Linked DNA regions of Homo sapiens. The protein of the gene in region 6 interacts with the protein of the main gene of each other region in a biochemical or structural test. Each region holds a gene or a part of one and is shown on either strand. Other genes may lie near its edges. The genes, in order: TJP3, PDZD2, GRID2IP, PARD3B, LDB3, AGMAT and DLG2.

Evidence for each region.
Region 1: the proteins of AGMAT (region 6) and TJP3 interact in a test that uses a peptide from one of them, tested with the Homo sapiens proteins (one large-scale study listed by IntAct).
Region 2: the proteins of AGMAT (region 6) and PDZD2 interact in a test that uses a peptide from one of them, tested with the Homo sapiens proteins (one large-scale study listed by IntAct).
Region 3: the proteins of AGMAT (region 6) and GRID2IP interact in a test that uses a peptide from one of them, tested with the Homo sapiens proteins (one large-scale study listed by IntAct).
Region 4: the proteins of AGMAT (region 6) and PARD3B interact in a test that uses a peptide from one of them, tested with the Homo sapiens proteins (one large-scale study listed by IntAct).
Region 5: the proteins of AGMAT (region 6) and LDB3 interact in a test that uses a peptide from one of them, tested with the Homo sapiens proteins (one large-scale study listed by IntAct).
Region 7: the proteins of AGMAT (region 6) and DLG2 interact in a test that uses a peptide from one of them, tested with the Homo sapiens proteins (one large-scale study listed by IntAct).

The regions. Positions count from the first base shown.
Region 1 is NC_000019.10:3,728,884-3,732,383, reverse strand, and holds part of TJP3 (tight junction protein ZO-3), read right to left. Parts: intron 2,357-3,500; coding exon 2,254-2,356; intron 2,030-2,253; coding exon 1,678-2,029; intron 450-1,677; coding exon 346-449; intron 1-345. UniProt on the Homo sapiens protein: TJP1, TJP2, and TJP3 are closely related scaffolding proteins that link tight junction (TJ) transmembrane proteins such as claudins, junctional adhesion molecules, and occludin to the actin cytoskeleton.
Region 2 is NC_000005.10:32,090,131-32,093,630, forward strand, and holds part of PDZD2 (PDZ domain-containing protein 2), read left to right. Parts: coding exon 1-1,045; intron 1,046-2,776; coding exon 2,777-2,894; intron 2,895-3,480; exon of another isoform or gene 3,481-3,500.
Region 3 is NC_000007.14:6,544,962-6,548,461, forward strand, and holds part of GRID2IP (delphilin), read right to left. Parts: intron 1-3,500.
Region 4 is NC_000002.12:204,548,475-204,551,974, reverse strand, and holds part of PARD3B (partitioning defective 3 homolog B), read right to left. Parts: intron 1-3,500. UniProt on the Homo sapiens protein: Putative adapter protein involved in asymmetrical cell division and cell polarization processes. May play a role in the formation of epithelial tight junctions.
Region 5 is NC_000010.11:86,731,011-86,734,510, reverse strand, and holds part of LDB3 (LIM domain-binding protein 3), read right to left. Parts: intron 1,625-3,500; coding exon 1,535-1,624; 3' UTR 1-1,534. UniProt on the Homo sapiens protein: May function as an adapter in striated muscle to couple protein kinase C-mediated signaling via its LIM domains to the cytoskeleton.
Region 6 is NC_000001.11:15,582,252-15,586,441, forward strand, and holds the start of AGMAT (guanidino acid hydrolase, mitochondrial precursor), read right to left. Parts: upstream 2,801-4,190; 5' UTR 2,717-2,800; coding exon 2,445-2,716; intron 1,145-2,444; coding exon 942-1,144; intron 1-941. UniProt on the Homo sapiens protein: Hydrolyzes linear guanidino acids to form urea and the corresponding amines. Displays specificity for substrates having a negatively charged head group and short chains including taurocyamine, guanidino propanoic and butanoic acids.
Region 7 is NC_000011.10:83,458,009-83,461,344, forward strand, and holds part of DLG2 (disks large homolog 2), read right to left. Parts: intron 1,917-3,336; coding exon 1,810-1,916; 3' UTR 1-1,809. UniProt on the Homo sapiens protein: Required for perception of chronic pain through NMDA receptor signaling. Regulates surface expression of NMDA receptors in dorsal horn neurons of the spinal cord.

The DNA.
Region 1 (3,500 bases), on a different chromosome or scaffold from region 6:
GCTCCCCTAAACCTGGTGACTGGGTCATTAGCATCCAGTCACCTAGGGTAGGTCCAGGAGTCAGCTGCCCACATGAGTCTCTGATGCACATCAAAGCTAGAGGGTATTAGAAACAGACAACCCCATGGGGATACTAGAAACCGACATTTGGCTGTGGATTAGTAGTAGCTGGGGAAAAAGGGGGTTTTATGCCTGGCCATCTGCAACCTTTGAGATACAAGCAACAACACTGAAGGTAAATGCTTTGGGGCCCAGTTCTGCTGTCCTTGCTGTATGACTCCGTGGGACTGCCCGCCCCAACCCTGCCTTGTCTCCCTGCTCTCAGGACAAGAAGCCCGGCCTCACCTGTAGAATGAGATCTCCTTCCTGCAGCCCACGGTGCCGGGCAGCCAGGCCCGAATCTGTAATGTGCTTGATGAAGATCTGACTGCCCAGCTTGACGCCAAACTCTGTAAGGGGGGAGGAGGGAAACTGAGGCAGGACTCTGGAGACGGGTGCCTGGGAGCATTCTCCTGCTGTAAGCAGTCCAGGTGCGGGCCCTCCCATCCTAACACCTTGATGGCATCATAAGGAGAACAGTGATGTCGCCCGTAGGACCCGAGATCTGATTGTGTCAATGACATCTCCACGGGGCGGGGACACCAGGTCACCGTGCCACTCGTGATGTTGCCATGCACAGGCTAAGGGCATTCTATTGCTCATAACATCATCATTGTTTCAATTTTTATTTTTTATTTTTTAATTTTTTTCGAGAAGGAGTCTCACTCCTATCGCCGGGGCTGGAGTGCAGTGGCAAAATCTCAGGTCACTGCAACCTCTACCTCCCGGGTTTAAGCAATTCTCGTGCCTCAGCCTCCCAGGTAGCTGGGATTACAGGTGCACACCACCACGCCTGGCTAATTTTTGTATTTCTAGTAGAGATGGGGTTTCATCATAGTGGTCAGGCTGGTCTAGAACTACTGGCCTCAAGTGATCTGCCTGCCTTGGCCTCCCAAAGTGCTGGGATTACAGGCATCAGCCACCACACTCAGCCAGGCCTCCTCTTATAAGGACCCTGTGGTGACACTGGGCCCCCCAGATCATCCAGGATCACCTCTGAGCTCAGGGTCCTTCACTCCATCCCATCTGCTGAGTCCCTCTTGCTAAGTGAGGTGGCCTAAACAGAGGTCCCGGGGATCAGCGCGGGGACATGTTGATAAAATGGTTCTGGGCCCCAAGTGGCTGACAGGTGATATGGCTCAACCTAGCCCAGAATTAGGGACCACCAGGTTCAGAGAGAAAGAGCTAGAGAGAATATATGAAATACAGACAGGCAGAAAGGGACAGAAAAGCAGAAAGTGGGGATTTGTGGTGGGGGGAGCGAGGAGCAAGAAGATGCCAGGTGTAGTTGTAGCTTCCAGGCTGGGCGCGGTGGCTCACGCCCACAATCCCAGCAAGCACTATGGGAGGCCGAGGTGGGTGAATCACCTGAGGTCAAGAATTCGAAACCATCCTTGCCAACATGGTGAAGCCCCATCTCTACCAAAAGTACAAAAATTAGCCAGGCATGGTGGCGGGCGCCTGGAGTCCCAGCCACCAGGGAGGCTGAGGCAGGAGAATCACTTGAAACCGTCGCCCATCCGACCACGGTGCCCTGTGTCCAGTACTGATCGTGTCCGACCTCCCGCCTCTTCTGACCTTCGCTGTCTCTCCTCTTCACCAGCACTGACTTCACAGGCTTCATCTGCACGTCCTGCCGTGGCAGCCGCTTAAAGCCGGACACCAGGGCCAGCCCGTTGGCCTCAGAGCCACCACCTGGGCTCCTACGCCCATGGCTGCCGGCCCGGCCCCGGCGACCAGGCCTCGGCCGGCGGGAGCGCTCGTCCCAGGAGCGGCCGGAGCCACTGGATGAGTCGCCGTCATAGCCCCGGCCCTGGTCCACCTCCTCCACCCGCTGGGGCCCATCGTCTTCATCCGAGTCCTGGCGCCCTGGGCTGGAGGGGCTGGCTTTGGTGGCGGGCAGGTGGATCCTCCGGGGACGTTTCACTGTCTGTTAGAGGAGGGGACAGGAAGGGTCAGCTACAGGCAAGGGCTGGGGGAGGCTCTGCTCAGCCCCCGGGTGGCCCTGGGGGACACCAGTCTCTCTCTGGGCCTCAATGTCCAAACTGTAAGATGAGAAGATGACTCCTTGCTCTCAGAAGCTTACAACCCCCACAGCGGCACGACCCAGGCTGGGGTCAGAGATGCTGGCCATGCCAGGGGCTGCCTACTCACGATGTTGGCCATCTTGGTGCAGGTCTTGAGTATCTGAATGGCAAACGCGGAGGTGGCATTCTCCATGGAAACCCCGTTCACCATGACGATGTGGTCGCCTGTCCTGAGAGAGGAGGGCGGGTCTTACGGAGGAGGCTTTGCAGGGGAGACCCTCGTAACAAGCCCTCCCTGGGGAGGGGGTGCCCCTGGAACCTCCAGATCTACAAGGCCTGGTTCTAATTCATTGGTGTCCCTAGGTTCACAAAGACATTTATCCTTCTGGGCCTCCGTTTTCTCACCTGTAAAATGGAGCCAATTGTAGAACCTACTATAATCATAGAGTGGAAGCTACATTTTTTTTTTTTTTTTTGAGACAGAGTCTCACTCTGTTGCCCAGGCTGGATTGCAGTAGCATGATCTCAACTCACTGCAACCTCCACCTCCTCGTTTCAAACGATCCTTCTGCCTCAGCCTCCCTAGTAGCTGGGACTACAGGTGCCCGCCACCACACCCGTCTAATTTTTGTATTTGTTAGTAGAGATGGGGTTTCACCATGTTGGCCAGGCTGGTTTTGAACTCCTGACCTCAGGTAATCCGCCCACCTCGGCCTCCCAAAGTGCTGGGATTGCAGGTGTGAGCCACTGCACCCGGCCTTGAAGCTACAGCTACACCTGGCATCTTCTCACTCCTCGCTCCCCACACCACAAATCCCCACTTTCTGCTTTTCTTTCCCTCTCTTCCTGTCTGTATTTCATATTTTCTTTCTAGCTCTTTCTCTCTGAACCTGGTGGTCCCTAATTCTGGGCTGGGCTGAGCCATATCACCTGTCAGCCACTTGGGGCCCAGAACCATTTTAACAACATAATTCCAAGAAGCATCAAACCCTCAAACACTCGATGGTTTCCAGGACTTTATGTTCCAAAAGGGCTCTGGGGCCACTATGACCCCAAGAATTCCTGTGAAGGACCAGGAAGTACCTTAGGGAAGTGAGGCCCAAGTCTCTGACACTGTCCTACTGCCAAGTCCGAGCCCTGTGTTGACAGAGCTGGAAAGTGCCAGGCTCACAAAGGTTTCTCCTCACCTCACTTACTTTCTTTTTGAGACAGAGTCTCACTCTGTCACCCAGGCTGGAGTGCAGTGGCGCAATCTTGGCTCACCGCAACCTCTGCCTCCCGGGTTCAAGCAAGTCTCCTGCCTCAGCCTCCCGAGTAGCTGGGATTACAGGAACACGCTACCACATCCCGCTAATTTTTGTAATTTTAGTAGAG
Region 2 (3,500 bases), on a different chromosome or scaffold from region 6:
AGTTCTCAAGCCATTTTGGACGGGAGGGTCACCCCCCACACAGCCTGGGTCGCTCTCGGGACAGCCAGGTCCCTGTGACAAGCAGTGTTGTCCCCGAGGCAAAGGCATCCAGAGGTGGTCTTCCCAGCCTGGCTAATGGACAGGGCATATATAGTGTAAAGCCGCTGCTGGACACATCGAGGAATCTTCCAGCCACAGATGAAGGGGATATCATTTCAGTCCAGGAGACGAGCTGCCTAGTCACAGACAAAATCAAAGTCACCAGACGACACTACTGCTATGAGCAGAACTGGCCCCATGAATCTACCTCATTTTTCTCTGTGAAGCAGCGGATCAAGTCTTTTGAGAACCTGGCCAATGCTGACCGGCCTGTAGCCAAGTCCGGGGCTTCCCCATTTTTGTCGGTGAGCTCCAAGCCTCCCATTGGGAGGCGGTCTTCCGGCAGCATTGTTTCCGGGAGCCTGGGCCACCCAGGTGACGCAGCAGCAAGGTTGTTGAGACGCAGCTTGAGTTCCTGCAGCGAAAACCAAAGCGAAGCCGGCACCCTCCTGCCCCAGATGGCCAAGTCTCCCTCAATCATGACACTGACCATCTCTCGGCAGAACCCACCAGAGACCAGTAGCAAGGGCTCTGATTCGGAACTAAAGAAATCACTTGGTCCTTTGGGAATTCCCACCCCAACGATGACCCTGGCTTCTCCTGTTAAGAGGAACAAGTCCTCGGTACGCCACACGCAGCCCTCGCCCGTGTCCCGCTCCAAGCTCCAGGAGCTGAGAGCCTTGAGCATGCCTGACCTTGACAAGCTCTGCAGCGAGGATTACTCAGCAGGGCCGAGCGCCGTGCTCTTCAAAACTGAGCTGGAGATCACCCCCAGGAGGTCACCTGGCCCTCCTGCTGGAGGCGTTTCGTGTCCCGAGAAGGGCGGGAACAGGGCCTGTCCAGGAGGAAGTGGCCCTAAAACCAGTGCTGCTGAGACACCCAGTTCAGCCAGTGATACGGGTGAAGCTGCCCAGGATCTGCCTTTTAGAAGAAGCTGGTCAGTTAAGTAAGTATCTGCCCACTACTTTTATTTCAGATAAACTTGTTTCATTTTGGAATAGTTTTAGATTTATAGAAAAGTTGCAAAGATAATGCAGAGTTCCCACTTACTTTTTTTTTTTTTTTTTTTTTTTGAGATGGAGCATCGCTCTGTCGCCCAGGCTGGAGTGCAATGGCGCGATCTCGGCTCACTGCAACCTCTGCCTCCCGGGTTCAAGCGATTCTCCTGCCTCAGCCTCCTGAGTAGCTGGGATTACAGGCGTGCACCACCACACCTGGCTAATTTTTGTATTTTTAATAGAGACGGGGTTTCACCATGTTGGTCAGGCTGGTCTCAAACTCCTAACCTTGTGATCCGCCTGCCTCGGCCTCCCAAAGTGCCGGGATTACAGGTGTGAGCCACTGCACCCGGCCACTTCTTACCCACTCTTCCTAATGTTCACATCTCTCATAACCACGGTCCATTCGTCAAAAGTAAGAAATTAATGTTGGAGCAATACCATTAACTACAGACTTCATTCAGATTTTGCTGAATAAATTCTGCTAATATCGTTTTTCTGTCCCAGGATCCAGGATACTACATTCCATTTTAGTGCCCTTGGTTTTTAATATCACTGCTGGAAAAATAAAAGTGCCTGCAGGGAAACATGTTTACCAAAGTGTCGCTCTGAGGAGAGGCTTCTAGAGGACATGGCACTTAAGCAAAAGCAACATGAGAGGGGCATGCAGAGGAAGAGAGAGCACAGCACGGGGGAATTTGGACTTTGGAGGTGGCTGGAGTTAAACGGAGAATTTCTAACATATTTAAAAATATTTCACTTGAGGCCAGCCGTGGTGGCTCACACCTGTAATCCCAGCACTTTAGGAGGCTGAGCCGGGCAGATCACTTAAGGTGAGGAGTTCAAGACCAGCCTGGCCAACATGGTGAAACCCCATCTCTACTAAAAATACAAAAATTAGCTGGGGATGGTGGCAGGCGCCTGTAATCCCACCTACTTGGGAGGCTGAGGCAGGAGAATCGCTTGAACCCAGGAGGCTGATGTTGCAGTGAGCTGAGATCGCGTCACTGCACTCCAGCCTGGGCAACAGAGTAAGACTCAATCTCGAAAAAAAAAAAAAAAAAGCCAGGCCCAGTGGCTCAGGCCTATAGTCCCAGCACTTTGGGAGACCAAGGCAGGCGGATCACTTGAGGTCAGGAGTTCAAGACCAGCCTGGCCAATATGGTGAAACCCTATCTCTACTAAAAATAAAAAATTAGCCAGGCGTGGTGGCAGGTGCCTGTGATCCCAACTACTCGGGAGGCTGAGGCACGAGAATAGCTTGAACCCAGGAGGTAGAGGTTGCAGTGAGCTGAGATCGTGCCACTGCACTCCAGCCTGGGTGACAGAGCTAGACTCCATCTCAATAAAAATAAAAATATTTCACTTGAACATATGTATTGAATATTTTAAAACATGTCAGAAGTGTCCTGTTAAGCTCCAGCATTGGTCCCATAACTTCTTGAGGGGATCTCTGAATTCATAGCAGTTCCCCTTGCCATTGGCAGTGAATGACATTTCTGTTCAGCACTCAGGATTTATTCTTCCATTAGTTTGGAATGGAAGTTTTGACCAAAAGAGAGCAGAAAATACCTGTTCTCTTTTGTATAGTAGAAAGGAGATCATTTTAAATGCATTCTTATAAAATGAAGAAATTGCTTTTTTCTTTAATGTTCTTCAAATATATTTATATTATTTAGTTTGGATCAACTTCTAGTCTCAGCGGGGGACCAGCAAAGATTACAGTCTGTTTTATCGTCAGTGGGATCGAAATCTACCATCCTAACTCTCATTCAGGAAGCGAAAGCACAATCAGAGGTGAGTGAAACACAGAAAGCTCAGGAACATGAATTGCGGCCGCGTGAGTGCCCAGGTATGTGCTGCCTGCCCAGACAGCCGAGGAGAGCCCGCCCCGAGTCCTGGAGAGGGAGGACTGCCTTGGGTTGCGAGTTTCACAGCTCAGTCTGACTTTGGCCTCACGTGCTGCTAGCCAGCTTCAGAAGCTAGACCTTGTCTTGAATGTTCAGGTGCCAGATGGGTGTCACTGCTGTTTTCATCCCCCAAGTAGCAACTAGTTACCATTCTCCTAACTCCTATGTGTGGAGTTTGTTTGCAGAGAGTCCTCAAAGCAGAGCTAGTCATCTCGGAAATACCTCTCGCCACCTAACTGTGGACATAAACTAGTCAAGGGAGCCACCTGCTGGTGAGAGAAGAGTTACATTGGTGTAGTCCCGCCGTTGCCCTGAAATATGGTGGACCCCTGAACAACATGAGGGTTGGGGCACTGACCTTCGAGCAGTGGAAAATCCACATATAACTTTTAACTCTCCCAAAAACTTAACTACTAACAACCTACTGTTGACCGGAAACCTTACTGATAACATAAACAGTCAATTAACACAAGTTTTGTCAGTTATATGTATT
Region 3 (3,500 bases), on a different chromosome or scaffold from region 6:
CTGTAGTCCCAGCTACTCGGGAGGCTGAGGCAGGAGAATGGTGTGAACCCGGGAGGCGGAGCTTGCAGTAAGCCGAGATCGCGCCACTGCACTCCAGCCTGGGTGACAGAGACAGACTCCATCTCAAAAGAAAAAAAAGAAAGAAAAGAAAAAGTAAAAAGTTAGCCAGATATGGTGGTGCACGCTTGTATTCCCAGCTACCAGATACTTGGGAGGCCGAGGTAGGAGGATCTCTTGTGCCCGGGAAATCAAGGCTGCAGTAAGCCATGATCACACCACTGAGCTCCAGCCTGGGTGACAGATCAAGACCCTGTCTCCATAAATAAATAAATAAAAGACAATCCTCCTTTGATCCTGAAAGCTGCTCATTCTCCTCCCTTCTGTAGTCTGGAGCCGTCTACACGTGCTGTTTCTGTACCACTGCCCTTTGCCACTGCAGTTCACTATTGCACTTGAGGCTCTCCACGACCCAGCTCTGGCGAAGAACCCCAGACAGTGACTCTCAGACCTCGATCTTCAGCCGAGAGCTCGCTCTTGAACTCTGGAACTGTATATCCACCCGCTTTCTAGATGATTCCAAAAGGGGAGGAGAAGTAGCGGGAAGCTTCGAGGGTTTCCAGTCAGAGGCCACGTTCTGTACACGTCTGAATCCTAGCACAGATGCACCATGAGTCTGTGTAACCGTCTGTCTCCCCCACCCAGGTGTGATGATCCGGGGTCTCATGCTTGTCCAGCCCCAAGCACAGCGCCTGGCACATATTAGGCACTCAGAGAATGTGGATGGGACTGAATCAAAAAGCAGCCTTGCATTGCACTTCCTGCAGGCCCCAGCTCACCACTGTTTCCCTCCCTGTGAGTGGGCCAGGCTGGCAGCACCAGCCGCCCCCTCCCCACGCACGCGCCGTGCTGGGGAAGGTTGCCAGTTTGGAAATCAAAGTCAGCAGCAACCTCAATTCAAAGGAGAACATGGCTGGCTGCAGAGATGTTTTATGTAAGAAAGAGGAAAAAATAGTTCCTCCCTCCTGGGGCCCGTGCTACAGTGCGGTTTCGGTGTCAGTTATTACCCAGATGTTCTCAGCCTACATCTAAGCATGAGGTATCATCACGGGACACTAATGGATTTTCTATTAAATATCAGCCACTTCAAGGAGGAAAAACTGGGGCAGGCAGAAAGCGCAGGCGAGAACTGGAGGGCTGGTGATTGAAAACCAACCAGTCTGGCGCAGTGGCTCATGCCTGTAATCCCAGCACTTTGGAAGGCAGAGGCAGGTGGATCACCTGAGGTCAGGAGTTTGCGACTAGCTTGACCAACATGGTGAAACCCCATCTCTACTTGAACTCCTGACCTCAGGTGACCTGCCTGCCTCGGCCTCCCAAAGTGCTGGGATTACAGGTGTGAGCCACCGTGCCCAGCCAAGCCACCAAGCCTGGCCTGTCTCTACTAAAAAAAATACAAAATTAGCCGGGCGTGGTGGTACATGCCTGTAATCCCAGCTTCTTGGGAGGCTGAGGCAGGAGAATTGCTTGAACCCAGGAGGCGGAGGTTGCAGTGAGCCAAGATCACGCCATTGCACTCCAGCCTGGGCAACAAGAGCGAAACTCTGTCTCAAAAAAAAAAAAAAAAAGATAGAAAACCAACTGGGCTCCACGGAGGCCCTTCATCTTCCAGAGGAAGTCATTTTTGGAGATTCACTCTCAGCTTTTGTGGGTGCCCAGCGAGCCCTAACCAAAATCCTCCACTTCCCCGTTCCTCCTTGCCAGAAAACACACTGCAGCTGGCCTGGGCAGCCTGTCGGATTCTACCCTCAGCGGGTTGCTGCCCAGCCCTGCTCCTGGGCAGGTCTTCTCTTGCATCCTGCCCTGTTTGGAGCTCTGAACGTGCCCCCTTCCAACTCTGCAGGGATTAGATGGAGTCTGGGATAGACCTTTGGCTCCATGGCAGGTGATCTGGGATTGTAGCAGGCATTACTCGCACTCACCAATATTTCTAGGTCTTCCCTCTTTCCTGGACACACATTAGACTACATTTCCCAGCATCCTTAGGGAGGAGCAGTGTACCTAGTTCTGCCCAATGAGCATTGAGGACAGGTGCTGTTCTAAGAGGAGATGCACAATTTTCCAAGCTCTCTTCCTCTTCCATAGGGAACCCTGAAGCTTCACATAGAGATGGAGGAGTCTGAAATGCTGAGACCTCGTATGGACATCAAGCCACCCTAGAAAGTCTACTGACCCCCTAGAGGACTCTGTGGGTGAAAAGTAAACTTCTGTAGTGCAAACGCACTAAGTTGTTGATTTTGGGTCAGGCACAGTGGCTCACACCTATAATCCCAGCACTTTGGGAGGCTGAGGCAGGAGAATTGCTTGAGGCCAGGAGTTTGAGACTAGCCTGGGCAACATAGCAAGACCTCATCTCCCCAGTCTTTTTTTTTTTTCTTAATCAGCCAGGTGTGGTGGTGCACACCTGTGGTCCCAGCTACTAGAGAGGCTGAGGCAGGAGGATCACTTGAGCCCAGGAGTTGGAGGCTGTAGTGAGCTATGATTGTACCACTGCACTCCAATCTGGGCAACAGAGCTAGACCCTGTCTCAAAAACAACAACAATAAAAAATGTTGGGTTTGTTTGTTATAGCAGCAGAGCCTGTTGTGGGTACAGGAAGAAAGTCACAGCTTTGGAAGATCTGGACTTTGGTGATGTAGGGAAGCTGGAGTTGAGTCCTGTGTGTATGCGAGTGTGTGTATCTGGCCACAGAGGCTGGTCTACTCAGGGTCAGAAAAGCCCATTCAGGGGATCAGGCTAGGGTACATGATGGAGGAGACACTCCTGAGGGGGTTAATTTGGAAGGGGTTAGGACTGGACCAAGCTTGGGCACTGAAGGAGGCCAGAGTGGGTGGGGACCTGATGCCTGGGCAGTGGGCTGGGAGGCATTTCTGCAATAGTCAAACTCCGACAAAGTTTCCAGGCTCCCTGACCTCCCAAACCCCATGGCCAAGTGCTGCTGGGGCAGAACTGAGCAGATTCCCTTCCACGGAGGAAAAGTCTGTGAGCTTGATAACACAACAGGGTGACTATAGCCAATAATAACTTAATTGTCCATTTTAAAATAACTTAGGCCAGGTGCAGTAGCTCACACCTGTAATTCCAGCACTTTTGGAAGGCCGAGGTAGGCAGATCTCCTGAGGTCAGGAGTTCAAGACCAGCCTGGACAACATAGTGAAACCGTGTCTCTACTATAAATACAAAAATTAGCCAGGCATGGTGGTGGGGGCCTGTAATCCCAGCTCCTTGGGAGGCTGAGCCAGGAGAATTGCTTAAACCCGGGAGGCGGAGGTTGCAGTGAGCCGAGATCGTACCACTGTATTCCCTGGGCAACAGAGCGAGACTCTGGCTCCAAAAAAAATAAATACAAACTTAAACGGTGTAGATGGATTGTTTATAACTCAAAAGATAAATGCTTGAGGGGATGGGTACCCCATTCTCCATGACATGCTTATTTCACATTG
Region 4 (3,500 bases), on a different chromosome or scaffold from region 6:
CTGCCCTCTTGAAAGATGCAGATCTAGAACATCTCTTCATCCCAGAAAGTTCTACTGCACTACACTGCTTTAGATTTTCCAAGAGAGGCCCAAAGCTCTGAATGTTTAACACACTCCTCAGATGTCTTTAACAGTCCACTCATAAAATAGTCTCACAAAAATCTGACAACATTACCATTTGCCCAACTTCTTCAAAGGGAATCTGTAGCACAGAATACCCTGGGAATGAATTCCTGGTTAACTAAGCCACTTGATTAAGCACAGGGCCTCAAGCTACAAATCAGGGCTGTGGCTCCCAATCGCGCACAGGGCAATTAACTCAGCTCAGATAACCAGCCAAACCCGGTTCAGCAAACCCTATGTGCATGGATTATACACAGAGGGTGTGTGGGGATGTGTGTGTGAGAGGGAGAGAAAGAGAAAGAGGAGGGAGGGGAGAGAAGATCCAGGAGCACAAACTCAAATGCCCACCAGCAGGCCAAATAGCAACCATGAATTAAGGCCATAAGTGAGAAAATAAGCACAGAGTAAAAACAGTCAAGCATGATGACAATAACTTATCCTCACTGTTAGGGAAGCAATAATGGAGACTGAAGCATTAATAATTCTTTCTAAAGAGAGCAGAGGTGTCTCAGCTCCAACTGATGGTTGCTATGTGGGAAAGTAAAGCCCAGCATTGTCAGAGCTTCCAATTTGCTTTTCCCCCAAAGAAGATAGGAATCTGGAGTTTTGCATGAAATCTCAAAATATTTAAATGCTGACAACTAAGTCAAAATATAACACTGAGCAGACCTACAAAAATATGTCTGTGGGTCACAGCAGGCCCCACGAGCCCTCTGTTTGCAAACTTAGAAGCTGCTCAATGCAAGCTGAGTAGCAGAACCAAAACCAAGTTGGAAGCATGTGTAATGCTGATGGCGAGTCAGTTCTGTCCACATGCTGTAAAGAAGTGAGGTCTGAATAGGAAATAAAGCACTCAAGTAAGTCAGTGCCCAATCAATTGAAAAGCATTTGAGGAATCCAGTCTGGGCCTAGCTTATGTATACAAGAACCTTAAAATCTATTTAGGTAACAAGGCATCAAAGCCTGAAAAGTTTAGAAATTCAAGAGTTCTAGCCTATTCCTCCAGGCTACTCCCACACATTATCATACCAGATTCTTCTAACTACACAAATTCTCTTAGATTCCGATCCCACAGTTAATCAGGGAATGGAATTGTTAGTCTAATCAGACTACTCCCAGTTCTGGGAAGCTGCCTCAACTTGTAAAACAAACATATTATTCAAAATATCTGAATACAGAAAAGATTCATCTTGAAAACCCTATCAAATATAATTTTTCCTTTCCAAAAAAGGGTGTACTCACATACGCAGTCAGAGCCACAAATTGGCCTTTGTAAATTCCAGCATGCCTGCTATTCCACGAATTCAATGCTCTTATTTCTCATTCATTCCAACCCCAGAACACACTATACATCCTCATTACTAGACAAGCCTTTCCCTTATTCACTTCATCCTCAGTGAATACACACACACACACACACACACACACACACACACACAGTCAGCCCTCCGCATCCATGCATTCCGCATCTGCGGATTCAACCAAACCCCAGATCAAAAATATTTAGAAAAAAAACTACGTGTACTGAACACACACACACAATTTTCTTGTCACTATTCCCTAAACAGTATAGTATAACAACTGTTTAAATAGCTTTTACATTGTATTAGGTATTATAAATAATCTAGAGATGACTTAAAGTATACAGGAGGATGTGTGTAGATTACATGCAAACACTGCAGCATTTTATATCAGGAACTTGAGCATCTGCAGATTTTGGTATCCGAGGGAAGTCCTGGAATCAATCCCCTATGGATACTAAGGGACAACTGTCTATATAAAATGAATGTTCACTTTAAGCAATTATTTGAGCACCTTCTATAGGAAGAATTCTTTAAGGGTAGGAGTAGGAGTATTCCTAATGGCACTAAAAGGTCAATAAATACTCTAACAAATTCCATGCTTTTATTTGTTTGTTTTTTTTTAATGAGAAAAGGCCAGAAATGTCAAAATTCATTTTGAAAAACAATGTGTAATAAATTCACTTTCTGTAAATCAGTGAAAGACACTTAAAAGGTTTGAATCCCTAGACAGCAAGGTTTTAAGCCCTGCACTTCATAATAATAATCCCATTAACAAATAACATGTATTGTGCTTATTCTGTTGCTTAATAACAGATTGGTGTGTAGATATCTAAGACACAGTATCTGCCATCAAAAGAGTTTAAAATCCAATGAGTTCAGCCATACGAAAAGATTAGAGTAGATTAGTGATTCTCAACCTTGGCTGGGCATTAGAATCACCTGGAGTGCTTTTTAAAATACCTATGCCCAGGACCCACTCCTAACCCAATGAATGAGAATCTTGGGGGAAGGGACACAGGTATTTGTAATGTTTAAAATGTTTAATGTGAAAATTAGAGGTTACTGAAGTTCAGCCAGGGTTGAGAGTCCCTGCAGGATACAGCTCAATTACCCATTCACCTGTGACACATAATTTTGATGATAAATTTAACTAATTACTCAACGATCCCCACCATAAGCACATAAGAAGACAATCACTTCTCCACTAACAACTTCACTAAATTGGATTTGGAGGCTGGGACACTGATAAAGTGTCAGGATTCGGAGATAAGCAATCCCACAGTTCTCACCTCTCAGTCCACCACGTTTCCAATGGAGTTCATCAAATGGTGGCAGGAACCTCAAAGGCCCAGACTTCAGAGCATAATTAAAGCCTTCCCAAAAGCTCCCCCTGTATCTTCAGGATCGCATCAACCTCTGGCCTTATCTGATGTTGATTCAGGGGGTTCCCAACATTCCACAAATAGGTTTTCTTTGTTCTCAACAGGTAGTGGTTACTTCTCAGACGCTGTCCACGAAATATAGAATGGCATTCTTGGACTTCACTTACTTTCCAAACTTTAGAAACCTCAACTTCATCCTCAATCTTGAAACCTGTCTTTCTCCCATCTACATTACTCAGTGCCTCAGAAAATAATGGACTTACTTTACATTCATGTTCCCACCAAATTTGGTTCTTTATAGCACTCGCCACCTGGATGTCTAAGATCTTGCCCATTTTCCCATTTGTAGTTAGACTGAGGAATATTTTTCATAGTTGATTTGCAAATCCTACAATATTTGCCTCAGAAACTAGATTTTCTACATGTAGACCTCATAAAATATATAATTAAGAGAAACTTGTGGATATCCCATCACTATTCCAGAAGCAAAATTGCTATTTTTAGGTTGATGTGATATAGCAGTTAGTAGATGGAAATGTCTTTTTAAATCAAGCATTAAAAAACAAACAATATGGATAAATTCCAATTCATAACAACATACATAGTACTAGGCTATGCAGTTAATGGCTGAGAGCAAACATCTAAAGACACAGTTCCTGGTTTCTAAACCCAAATCTACGACTTACTTGTC
Region 5 (3,500 bases), on a different chromosome or scaffold from region 6:
GGACAGAATAGAGTGAGTTGGAAGAGAGCCTAAATATCGTGCTCAAGTGAGAAACATCCACGCAAGTGCCTGCTTCAATGCCATGTTTTCAATGAGCATATTAACAGGGCTTCCTAAAAAGGGAAGCGACTACACTGTTTCCAACCACAGAATCTAAGCTGCCTTCTTTATCACCAAACAGCTTTAAGATGCTTACCTAACTCAAACTATCACTAGTATAAAGTAGTTTGAAGGCCCCTCTACTTCAATAAATACTTAAATAATAGCTAGATCAACTCAGCTCATACATTTTCAAAATATTGGCCAAAACAGCAAATGCATATATATCAGTGCATCTGTCCCTTCCAGCAGTTAACACAATTGTACAAACTCAGTGTGCTGCATTTAAAGGAACATTTGAAAAGGATGATGCAGACCTGAAGGTGGGAGGTCCTGCCTCCTCGTGTGTTCTTACTGAGGGTGGCAGAAAGTAAGTTTCCTCTTCCCCACCCAGAGTTTGGGCATGTGAGCCTATTCTGCCATCCTGTTTCAGACACTGTCTCTCTGTCTCTCTTCTTTTCCACAGGCCACCAAGCCTATTTGAGATGGAGGGTACTGGGGGAGACGTCATAAGTGAGCAGTCACAAGTTGGGGTGAAATTCATGCACACGACTGGACACTCATGCTAACGAACCCTTAAAGCTAAACAAAGGCCAAAGACAACCCAAAGCCTTTAAAAAAATCTCTCACACACCACAGAGCAAAACTGGAAAAACCCAACTCTACTTTCCCATCACAATTCAAAAAGGAGCTAAGCCTTCTGGGGATGTTGGATGTTTCAGACTGAGAGAGGGTGGCTGACAGGGCCATCTTTTCTCAGCTGTCTGCAACCTGAGCCAGAGCCCTTCCTGGAGCCCTGGCAATTGCCCAGTGGCTCCCAGAAGACATCTCTTTGGACGTCCGGGCTCCCAAGAAGGTTTTAAGTTTGTTCAAGGTCTGAAGTCTGATGCGCAGAGGTAGCTCCATGACGCTAGTAATGGAATAACACTTCCTTTTTTGGTGAGGAAAGCCCAATGGGTCTTAGCTAACAAGCTCTCAGCTATGACTCTAAAAATACCCTGCAGCGAGTGCTGTTTGGCACTTCAATTTGTTTGCCAGGGGAGCGCTTAAGAACTCCGCAGAATGCTTCAGATTCTCCACAGCTGCTCTAAGCTCTGTCCTCCTCTGGTGACCAAAGCAAGTGTATCGCTTTGGGAAAGCTGCTTGTTGCTTTTCACTTTTGAGTTCTTGGAATTCTGCTCTAAATGTCTGAAGTACAATTCCAGTCTTGGATTAATAACTAGCTTGGTTTTGAGTCTTCATTTGGCTCCTAGTCTGAACTATGCAAATGCACGATCTGTGTACAGAAGAAAAAACCTAAAATTATACTTCCAAAGGGCTCAGTCGCTTCCTCTCTCTCCCCATTCCCCTCAGAAGAAACATCAGCCTCCCGAATCCTTTGTTGCCAGCAGCAGGAGCAGCTCCGGGCCTCGTCAGCACAGGCGGCCTTGGCCGCCTACAAGTTGATGGTGTGTGCGTGCTTCTTGCACAGGGGTCTGTCCTTCTTGGAGTAGAACGGCTGCCCCTCCAGATTCACATGGCAGACCTGGAGCAGAGAACAGACCTGCGTGAGACCCACGTGGCACAGGGCATGAGCAGATTTCAATCACTTTTTTAAGAAAACGCCCTGGCCAGGCGTGGTGGCTCAGTCCTGTAATCCCAGCACTTTGGAAGGCCAAGGCAGGCAGATCACTTGAGGTCAGGAGTCCAAGACCAGCCTGGCCAACATGGCGAAACTCCATCTCTACTAAAAATACAAAAATTAGCCAGGGGCATGTTGCCATGTGCCTGTAATCCCAGCTACTCGGGAGGTTGAGGCAGAAGAATCTCTTGAACCCGGGAGACAGAGGTTGCAGTGAGCTGTGATTGTGCCACTGCACTCCAGCCTGGGCAACATAGCAAGACTGTCTAAAGCAAACAAACAAACAAACAAACAGCCTTGCCCCATGCATTCTAGAGAAAAGGCAACAGCCTATTTCTCCCACTATGAATTCTTAATGACGGAAGCAGAGTACATGAGTTGGACTATATAAAAACTAAGATTCCTGAAGAACAGAATAAAATCAAATGAAATTAATTAAATTTAATGGAATAGAGAAAATATACACTATGAAGCTGACCAATTCATGCTATCTAAAATAGCATGAATAGAGTCAATACAAGTTCACAAGTCAATATACCACAGAGAGGATTCACGTCTAAAGAAAATCATTAGTAAACTAACAAACACATCAGAGAAGATTGTACTCACTAATAATTAAAGAAAAAGCAAATTAAAACTCCCCTGACTCCAGGCGCAGTAGCTGATGCCTGTAATCCCTACACTTTGGAAGGCCAAGGCAGGAGGATCGTTTGAGGCCAGGTGTTTGAGACCAGCCTGGGCAACATAGTGAGCCTCTGTCTCTACCAAAAAAAAAAAAAAAGAAAAAGAAAGAAAGAAAAGAAAATTAGTTAAAAAAATTACAAGAAAAACTGCCCTGAGATACCACTAGACACATATTAATCTAGCAAGACAAATAAAACAAAAAAACCTCAATGGCCTGTCACCTTTAACCTAATATGCCTGTAGCCAAAAAGCTTAAAAAAAAAAAAAGTATTCAATCAAAAATCAGCAATGCCAAAAAGGAACAAGGCCTACTCGTGCACTGCTAGAGACATGTGAGTGAGCTCAGTGTTCCATAGGGAATCTGGCCATGTTGAACAAGAACCATTGAGATGTGACTACCCTGTAACCCAGTAATGCCACGCTAGAGAATTTTATCCTGCAGAAGCAACTCTGCAGAACAACAAAACAACCTGTGCTCAACTAGAAACTGAAAACTAGTAAAATTTCTCTCAATAGGAAGATGATTCAGTAAATTTTCATGGTGTATTTTTCCAATGGAATGCCACCATTTAAAAAGAGAGATGGGCCAGGCATGGTGGCTCACGCCTGCAATCCCAGCATTTTGGAAGGCCGAGGCAGGAGGACCACGAGATCAGGAGTTTGAGATCAGCCTGACCAACATGGTGAAACCTTGTCTCTACTAAAAATACAAAAATTAGCCGGGTGTGGTGGTGCGCACTGGTAATCCCAGCTACTCAGGAGGCTGAGGCAGGAGAATCACTTGAACCCGGAAGACGGAGGTTTCAGTGAGCTGAGATCATGCCACTGTACCCAAGCCTGGGCGACAGAGCGAGATTCCGTCTCAAAAAAAAAAAAAAAAAGGTAGATATGGAAAAGTATGCAGAGAAATATACAAAAAAACAAAAGAGATGAAATTCTTTTTTTTTTTTTTGAGATGGAGTCTCACTCTGTCACCCAGGCTGGAGTGCAGTGGCGCGATCTCAGCTCACTGCAACCTCTGCCTCCCGGGTTCAAGCAATTCTCCTGCCTCAGCCTCCCTAGTAGCTGGGATTACAGGCGCCCACCACCATACTCA
Region 6 (4,190 bases):
GTGAAATTCTGTCTCAAAAAAAAAGAAAAAAAAAAAAGATATGCCATGCTTGATGCTGGGCATTTCATGTGCACTTTCATTATATGCCCCTCACATCATGCAGTGAGTAGGTGTTACTGTGATCATTCCCATCTTACAGGTGAGGGTGTGAAGCATCAAGCACGGTATACAGCAACATTGCTAGGGAGAAGTGCAGCTGAGACTTCAAACCATGCCATCGGGAAACCACACTCCTCCCACTATGCCATGCAGGCTAGGCTCTCTAACTTGGCAAAAATGAATTTGGATATTTAGGAAAAGATCCCTGTCATTTTAAGTATTTGTGAACAAGAGAAAAAGTGAGAGTGGGTCAGGGGTGAGGATAAGGGGAAAGCTGCCCTATAGGTTGATGTAGACCCTGAGCAGGACAAAAACACCCTCTTTGCAGTTCTCCTCGCAAATAAAGTCATTAGAAACATCATCTTGGCCAGGCGCGGTGGCTCATGCCTGTAACCCCAGCACTTTGGGAGGCCAAGGTGGGCGGATCACTTGAGGTCAGGAGTTCAAGACCAGCCTGGCCAACATGGCAAAACCCCGACTCTACCAAAAATACAAAAATTAGCCAGGCATGGTGGTGGGCGCCTGTAATCCCAGCTACTTGGGAGGCTGAGGCAGGAGAATTGCTTGAACCCAGGAAGTGGAGGTTGCAATGTGCCGAGATTGCACCACTGCACTCCAGTCTGGGTAACAGAGTGAGACTGTCTCACACACACACATACACACACACGTGAAATATTCTCTCCCCAGGGATTAAAATAAATGAATTACAATGCTCTCTTTCCTACTGTCTGCACATTTGCAGTGGCTTGCAGGGGAGAAGTAGCTGTACTCAAGCCCCTGAGTACAGGATAAGTAAACCCTGAGTGCAGGGAACTACTCTGGCTCTTGCAGACTGACATTACCCAAGGTCAGAGGAATACAGCCAGCTGCTACAATTTTCTCATAGGCCTCTTGAATTCGCCGGCAGCTGTCCTGAAGGTTGTAAAGATTGACATTCACATCGCCTAGGTCTGCAACCATGAGGGACTGGAAGGGGAGGGCCCCCGTGCTAGGATTGACTGTCCCAAGCATCACTGATTCTTCCCGGATGCGGCGAGGTCCGAATCTGCAGAAGGAAGAATCATCCTGTCAGCCATCATCTGCAGAGATTTCAGGCTTTGCTTAGGCCAGGGCTTCTCAGCCTCAGCAATTTGGGGCCAGATGATTCCGTGTCGCGGCATTGCATAATGGAATGCTTAGCAGCATCCCGGCCTGTACTCACTAGGTGCCAGTAGCACCCTTCCTCCAAGGTGTAACAACCCAAAACGCCTCCAGATACTGCCAAATGTCCCCGGAGTGCAAAACCGCCCCACTTGAGAATCACCGATCTAGGCTATGTATCGAAGAGACTAAATAAGTGTACTAAATGGCATTAGTGAATTTCATGATCTACCTGAGTCTCAGTTTCCTAATTTGTAAAATATTTACCTTGCACTGTAGTAAAAATTAAATGAGGTAATCTATGCAAAGCACCTTGCACTTAGGAGACATTTAATAAGTGCTGGCTTTCATAATTCAGATCAGTACGGTCAGATATAGTGTTGCTGAGCTGAATCAGAAATTGCTGACGTTCAATAACTAGGAAGATGAATTTTGCTTCCTCCGACTTGATCCTAGGAAAATTGCCTTCATTTGAGCATTTCTTGAGTCAGGTGACATCTTCAGATTTGGGGAAGGGGCAGCCAGTTTCTGCTCTCAAATGCAATGTCACCTGCCACTGTAAGCTGGGGAGAGGAGAGGGGAGGAATCCACAGCAGCCATCCCAGCAAGGCCCCAGGATGGGGACACAGAGAAGGTTCAGGCTCCAGAATCCCTTCTTTTTTCTTTTTTTGAGACGGAGTCTCACTCTGTTGCCCAGGCTGGAGCGCAGTGGCGCAATCTCAGCTCACTGCAACCTCCGTCTCCCGGGTTCAAGCGATTCTCCTGCCTCAGCCTCCCGAGTAGCTGGGATTACAGGCCCGCGCCACCATGCCCGGCTTTTTTTTTCTTTTTTTTGTACCTTTGTAGAGACAGAGTTTCACCATGTTGGTCAGGATGGTCTCGAACTCCTGACCTCGTGATCCGCCCGCCTCAGCCTCCCAAAGTGCTGGGATTACAGGCATGAGCCACCGGGCCGGCCAAAATCCCTTCTTGACCAATGATGACACTAAGATGTGGGAGGCCACGCCCATGTTGAGCCCTGGGGTTTGCTTATTGAGGGTCCAGGTAAATCAACCATCTCAAACCATAAGGGGCATTTTGGAGCCGGCCACCAGCTTCCAACTCGACCCGGGGCCAGCAGGGGCGCCTGTCTCGGTGCTTTCCATGCCCGACAGCCAGCAAGCAGTCCCTCCACGTGTACCCGGCCCCCGTCCTTCCGGCCTTACCTCGCCCCAGGCCGGTTGGAGGTCCCAGTATCCAGGGGCACCCCGATGAAGGCAGCGTCCAGCCCCTCGGGGGAGGTCTGCACCGGCAGGCGCATCATGGAGCAGACGCCCACCGGCCGGGCCACGAACTCGGGGCTGGGGGGCTGGTTCCGGGGCGCGTCGGAAGCCTGGCGGCTCTGGCGGCGCCCCGGATGAAAGAGCCCTGCGGCAGGACGCGCGCCCACGCCGGGCCCCGGGCCCCGGGCGCACCCGGACGCCAGCAGCCTCAGCATTGCCGCGCGCGGCCAAGACCTCACCGACCAAACCGCCCGCGAGGCCGCCGCGATCTGGCTGGTCCCGAACGGCGAGGCGAGTGTGCACGCGCCAGAGCCGGAACCCGAGCCGGCTCAAAGGTCAGGGGCGCCCTAGGATCAAGGCGGGGGAGGGGCCCCAGGACCTGCCGTGCTCTCCCCTCAACCCCTCTGGACTTCAGCCTCTGGCAAATAGAGTCAGGCTGGGGGTGCCCACTGGCCGGCACTGTGCCAGGGGTGTCTGCGCCCTGCTCCCCACTGTGGCCTTCAGCAGCCTCTTCTCCCATTCAGAGTAATTGTTTGTTTTTATAGAGACGGTCTCACTGTGTTGCCCAGACTGGTCTCCAACTTCTGGACTCAAGTGATTCTCCCACCTTGGCCTCCCAAAGTGCTGGGATTACAGGTGTGAGCCACAGCAGCCACCCCAGAGTAATATTTTTAAAGCCAGAAAGATATGAAGGAAAATGATCTTTCTCTAAGCCAGAAAAATAGGAAATGCATTTTTTTAAATAATGTATTTTTAAATGTCCAGGGATAGGAATCTCAAGAAGCAGTAAAGTTAGTTAGCTACTTAGCTAGCTAGCTAGTTATTTTGAGACAGGGTCTTGCTGTGTTGCTCAGGCTGGAGTGCAGTGGCACAATCATAGCTCACTGCAGCCTCAAACTGCTGGGCTCAAGCAATCGTCTCACCTCAGCCTCCCGAGTAGTTGGGACTACAAGCGTGAGCCATCGCGCCTGGCCAGTAAAGTCTTTTTAAATAACCTTGTTAAAAAAGGACTAGAGGCCAGGGGCGGTGGCTCACGCCTGTAATCCCAGCACTTTGGGAGGCTGAGGCGGGCGGATCACGAGGTCAGGAGATCGAGACCATCCTGGCTAACACGGTGAAACCCCATCTCTACTAAAAGTACAAAAATTTAGCCGGGCATGGTGGCAGGTGCCTGTAGTCCCAGCTACTTGGGAGGCTGAGGCAGGAGAATGGCATGAACCCGGGAGGCGGAGCTTGCAGTGAGCTGAGATCAGGCCACTGCACTCCAGCCTGGGCAACAGAGCAAGACTCCGTCTCAAAAATAAATAAATAAATAAATAAATAAATAAATAAATAAATAAAGGACTTACAGGCAAGCTGTAAGGAAGGTCACAGTGCCAGAGAACCTGTTACATCCTCTTTATTTCTAAGGGGAAAGAAAAACACACGTGGAAAGAAAGAAGTGATTTGTAATGGAATTATGTGAGCCATTTAGCAGTATTATATATATTATTTTTTCTGATCTCTAAATGTTGAGATTGAATGGAAAAGGCTCACATTTGCATTTACGTTGCAACCTCTACACAAAGGTTGCACATTAGGCCAGGCGCGGTGGCTCACACCTGTAATCCCAGCACTTTGGGAGGCCGAGGTGGGCGGATCATGAGGTCAGGAGATGAGACCATCTTGGCTAACATGGTGAAACCCCAT
Region 7 (3,336 bases), on a different chromosome or scaffold from region 6:
CTAAGCTCCGATGTTCTTACTGTGAAGAAGCCCCATCACTCTGATGGCTCTATCTCTTGCTCTCCTACCCAGCCTACATGCTGGTTTGCTGCACAGTGTGGCAGAATCCCTGCCAGGTCTGGATGTACCCCAGAAATAAGGCGATGGGGCTTAGTCTGGGCATGCACAGAACCCAGAGTAGAGTGGTTATTATCACTGAAAAGTCTCTCCCCAAACACCATGGGCAAAAGCAATGCTGATGTCGCCATCCACTCTAAAGTGGGAAACCAACTCTTCTAGTTCAGTTTATAGGCTTTGGGAGGTTTCTTTTTTTAAATCATCGTTATTATAATTGTTAAAAAATAAACTTGGTCCAGGTGCAGCTCCAAGAAAGGCAGTTCAGTTGGTTGAGCTCAAAGTCATTAATTGTCTTTCCTTGTGACTCTATCTCTTTGCTCTGTACATAGAAACAAAAAAGTCTGCACCCCCTCACCCCCAACCAGACACTTCTCTTCTCTCTCTTCCTCAAAGAAATAGTGCATCTAGGAACAGATCTCTCATTGGCTCTAGTACCATCTCTGGATGTTACAAAACTCTCAGTTACTCTGTAAAACAAAAAGGTACTAATCCTAATTACTCATTGTTGGCCAAAATGCTAAATGGTCCTTTAAGAATTGTATGTCAGTAACTAGGAACAAAGTTATTCAACTATTTGCATGGCAGGCTCAGGTTATTTAACTAGAGGAAAGCAAAAACTTCCCTTTAGATCATTTGCATAAGTTTGTCTCTGAAAAGCCATCAGCATAAAAAAATGCATTAACCAAATGTCTTCCAAAAATATCCATGAGGGCAACTCATTAAGGGATGTGCTGCATGAGAGTGTATCACTAATGTGGAAGGGAGGTAAGTGAGGAAGAAGTCTTTGTCAGACTTAAAAGGAACTCAGATGCTCTTAACAGATCATTGGCAACAAAAGGGAGAGTGCAACTTTCAGGTCTTGAATTTGATCATCTGCTGATGTTGCATACATTTAGTCTTTCAATATTAGTCTTTACAAAATATTTCACAAAACTTTTTTAACCTATAGAAATTTGTTTCTATACATTTAATATATTTTTATTGTATAAATTATTCTCATCTTTAGTGCCTTCTTTCAGTTTATAAATGGCAAAATAGGCAATCAACAATCATAAAGCTAATCCCAGGTGGAATCCCCTCCTGTCAGTGAGGTTAGTCCTCCATACACTTGCAAATTTTATGAAATTCTTGTCTTTGCAGATGCCAGTCAAAAAACTACACACTTATCCTTCCCTGATAGTATGTCATCTCCAAAGGGATTCCTTTCTTTTTTCCTTCTTTCTTTCATTTGCTTGTTAAGAAATCAAAAGATGTGCATAGTTATAAAATTCAAAGTGTACCAATTACAGATGTGGGTAATGGGAAGGCTGATGAGGTTCGAGTGCTGGCAATTTTTCTTTAAAGCAAAAGACACAGAGAGCTCTGCAGCTAAATCAGCTCTGGACATCTGCTGGGGTGAGGAGGCTCTCATCTCATCTCTTGGGCAGAAAGCCCGTCAGAGGTTCATCCCTACACCTGGCACTTTGAGCAAACCAAAGCCTTCCTTCATACTGCAATGTCTTTTCTGTCCCACCCTTTGGCCCCTCTGTTTCCTTCATGGCTTCATACAGTTTGTGTTGTACATTCGTAAGAATTCACATTGACTGCAAAAACATAAATGCAACAAAAACATAAAAGCCTCCAAGTAGTATGTTATATATATTTTGTTCTTCTAAATGCTCTTCTGTCGTTGTCAGAGGCGCAGTAGCTAATTTATAACTTTTCCTTTGAGGGAATCCAGATGAAAGGCCCAGATTGCTCTTCAATAACAAGCTTGCATTGGTTATATATATCTTCTAAAGTATCTCCTTGGACAATAGCTGTAACAAAAGCAAACACACCCAGAATTAGAAATAATTTCCTGGATGGTGAAGAACAATCATCACTTACACATTGGAGGCTCAAATCAGTAGCAGATGACTCATCAGGAAGCTTCATATCATTTTTCATTAGTAAGAAGAAGCAGAAAATTCATATAAGCAAAGTTACATTCATGATTTTAAGAAATGCTTTCAATGGATATCCTGGATCAGTAACAAATGATTCACAGTCTTTGCACTTTCTACATGTCTGTCTGTAGTACTGGACAATTTATCACTCATCTATTTAACCAATATTTTATGGGTGCCTACTCTGAGCCAGGCACTGAGCTGGGCAATGATCAATTTTCAGACTGAGAGCTCCCTATTTAGAAAAGAAAACTGGCCTTACAGTCTGTATATTTACTTATTTTGGCAGCAGCAGAAATTCAGATATTGTAGACACCGAGGAAATAATGAAGATTTTAGAGGGAAGTTTAGTTAGCCTCCCAACCCTCAAAGCCCTTAATAGGAAAACCCATTAATTCCCCAAATCTCTGGTAACTTGAGATTTTTACCATACAGAGCTATTCATATTGAGAATACCATAAGTCCACTATTTATAAGAAACATAAACAGGAAGAAATATAAACAAACTGCTCAGTTGTGTATCTCCTAAAACACTAAGTCACTTGGAGTAGATTTAAGTACATTTTATTGTCTCATTTGAACAAAAGTTATCTTGTAGAAAGATTTCCAAAACACATCAGTATTATCCATATGACACTAGGTCTTAAAAATAAATTACTACTGAAAGATGATTTAGATATTTAAAAACAATCCTCAGAATATATTATTGTATTGTATACAAAATATAAACCACTGTCAAAATGTACACTTTTGTTTCTCCTACCTGGATGTTCTTTTAGGATGAAACACAGCTCGTATCTTGGTTACTGACAGAAAGATTACTTAATATTACCTGATTCAAGATATTTACAAACTGCTAAGGCACTGACACTTTCTATATTCTGAATAAGGTAAAAAATAAAACATCTAACTTCACATATGGTAATCCAGGAAGAAAGTTCTTGGGTTTTTTTTTTTTTTTTTTTTTTTTTTGAGACAGAATTTCACCCTTGTTGCCCAGGCTGGAGTGCAGTAGCACGATCTCGGCTCACTGCGACCTCCACCTCCTGGGTTCAAGTGATTCTCCTGTCTCAGCCTCCCTAGTAGCTGGGATTACAGGTGCCTGCCACCACACCCAGCTAATTTTTTGTATTTTTAGTAGAGACGGGGGTTTCACTATGTTGGCCAGGCTGGTCTCGAACTCCTGACCTCAGGTGATCCACCCACCTCAGCCTCCCAAAGTGCTGGGATTAGAGGCATAAGCCCAGCTCGAAAGTTCTTGTTTTTAAACCTCCGGGAACCAGGTGTAAGG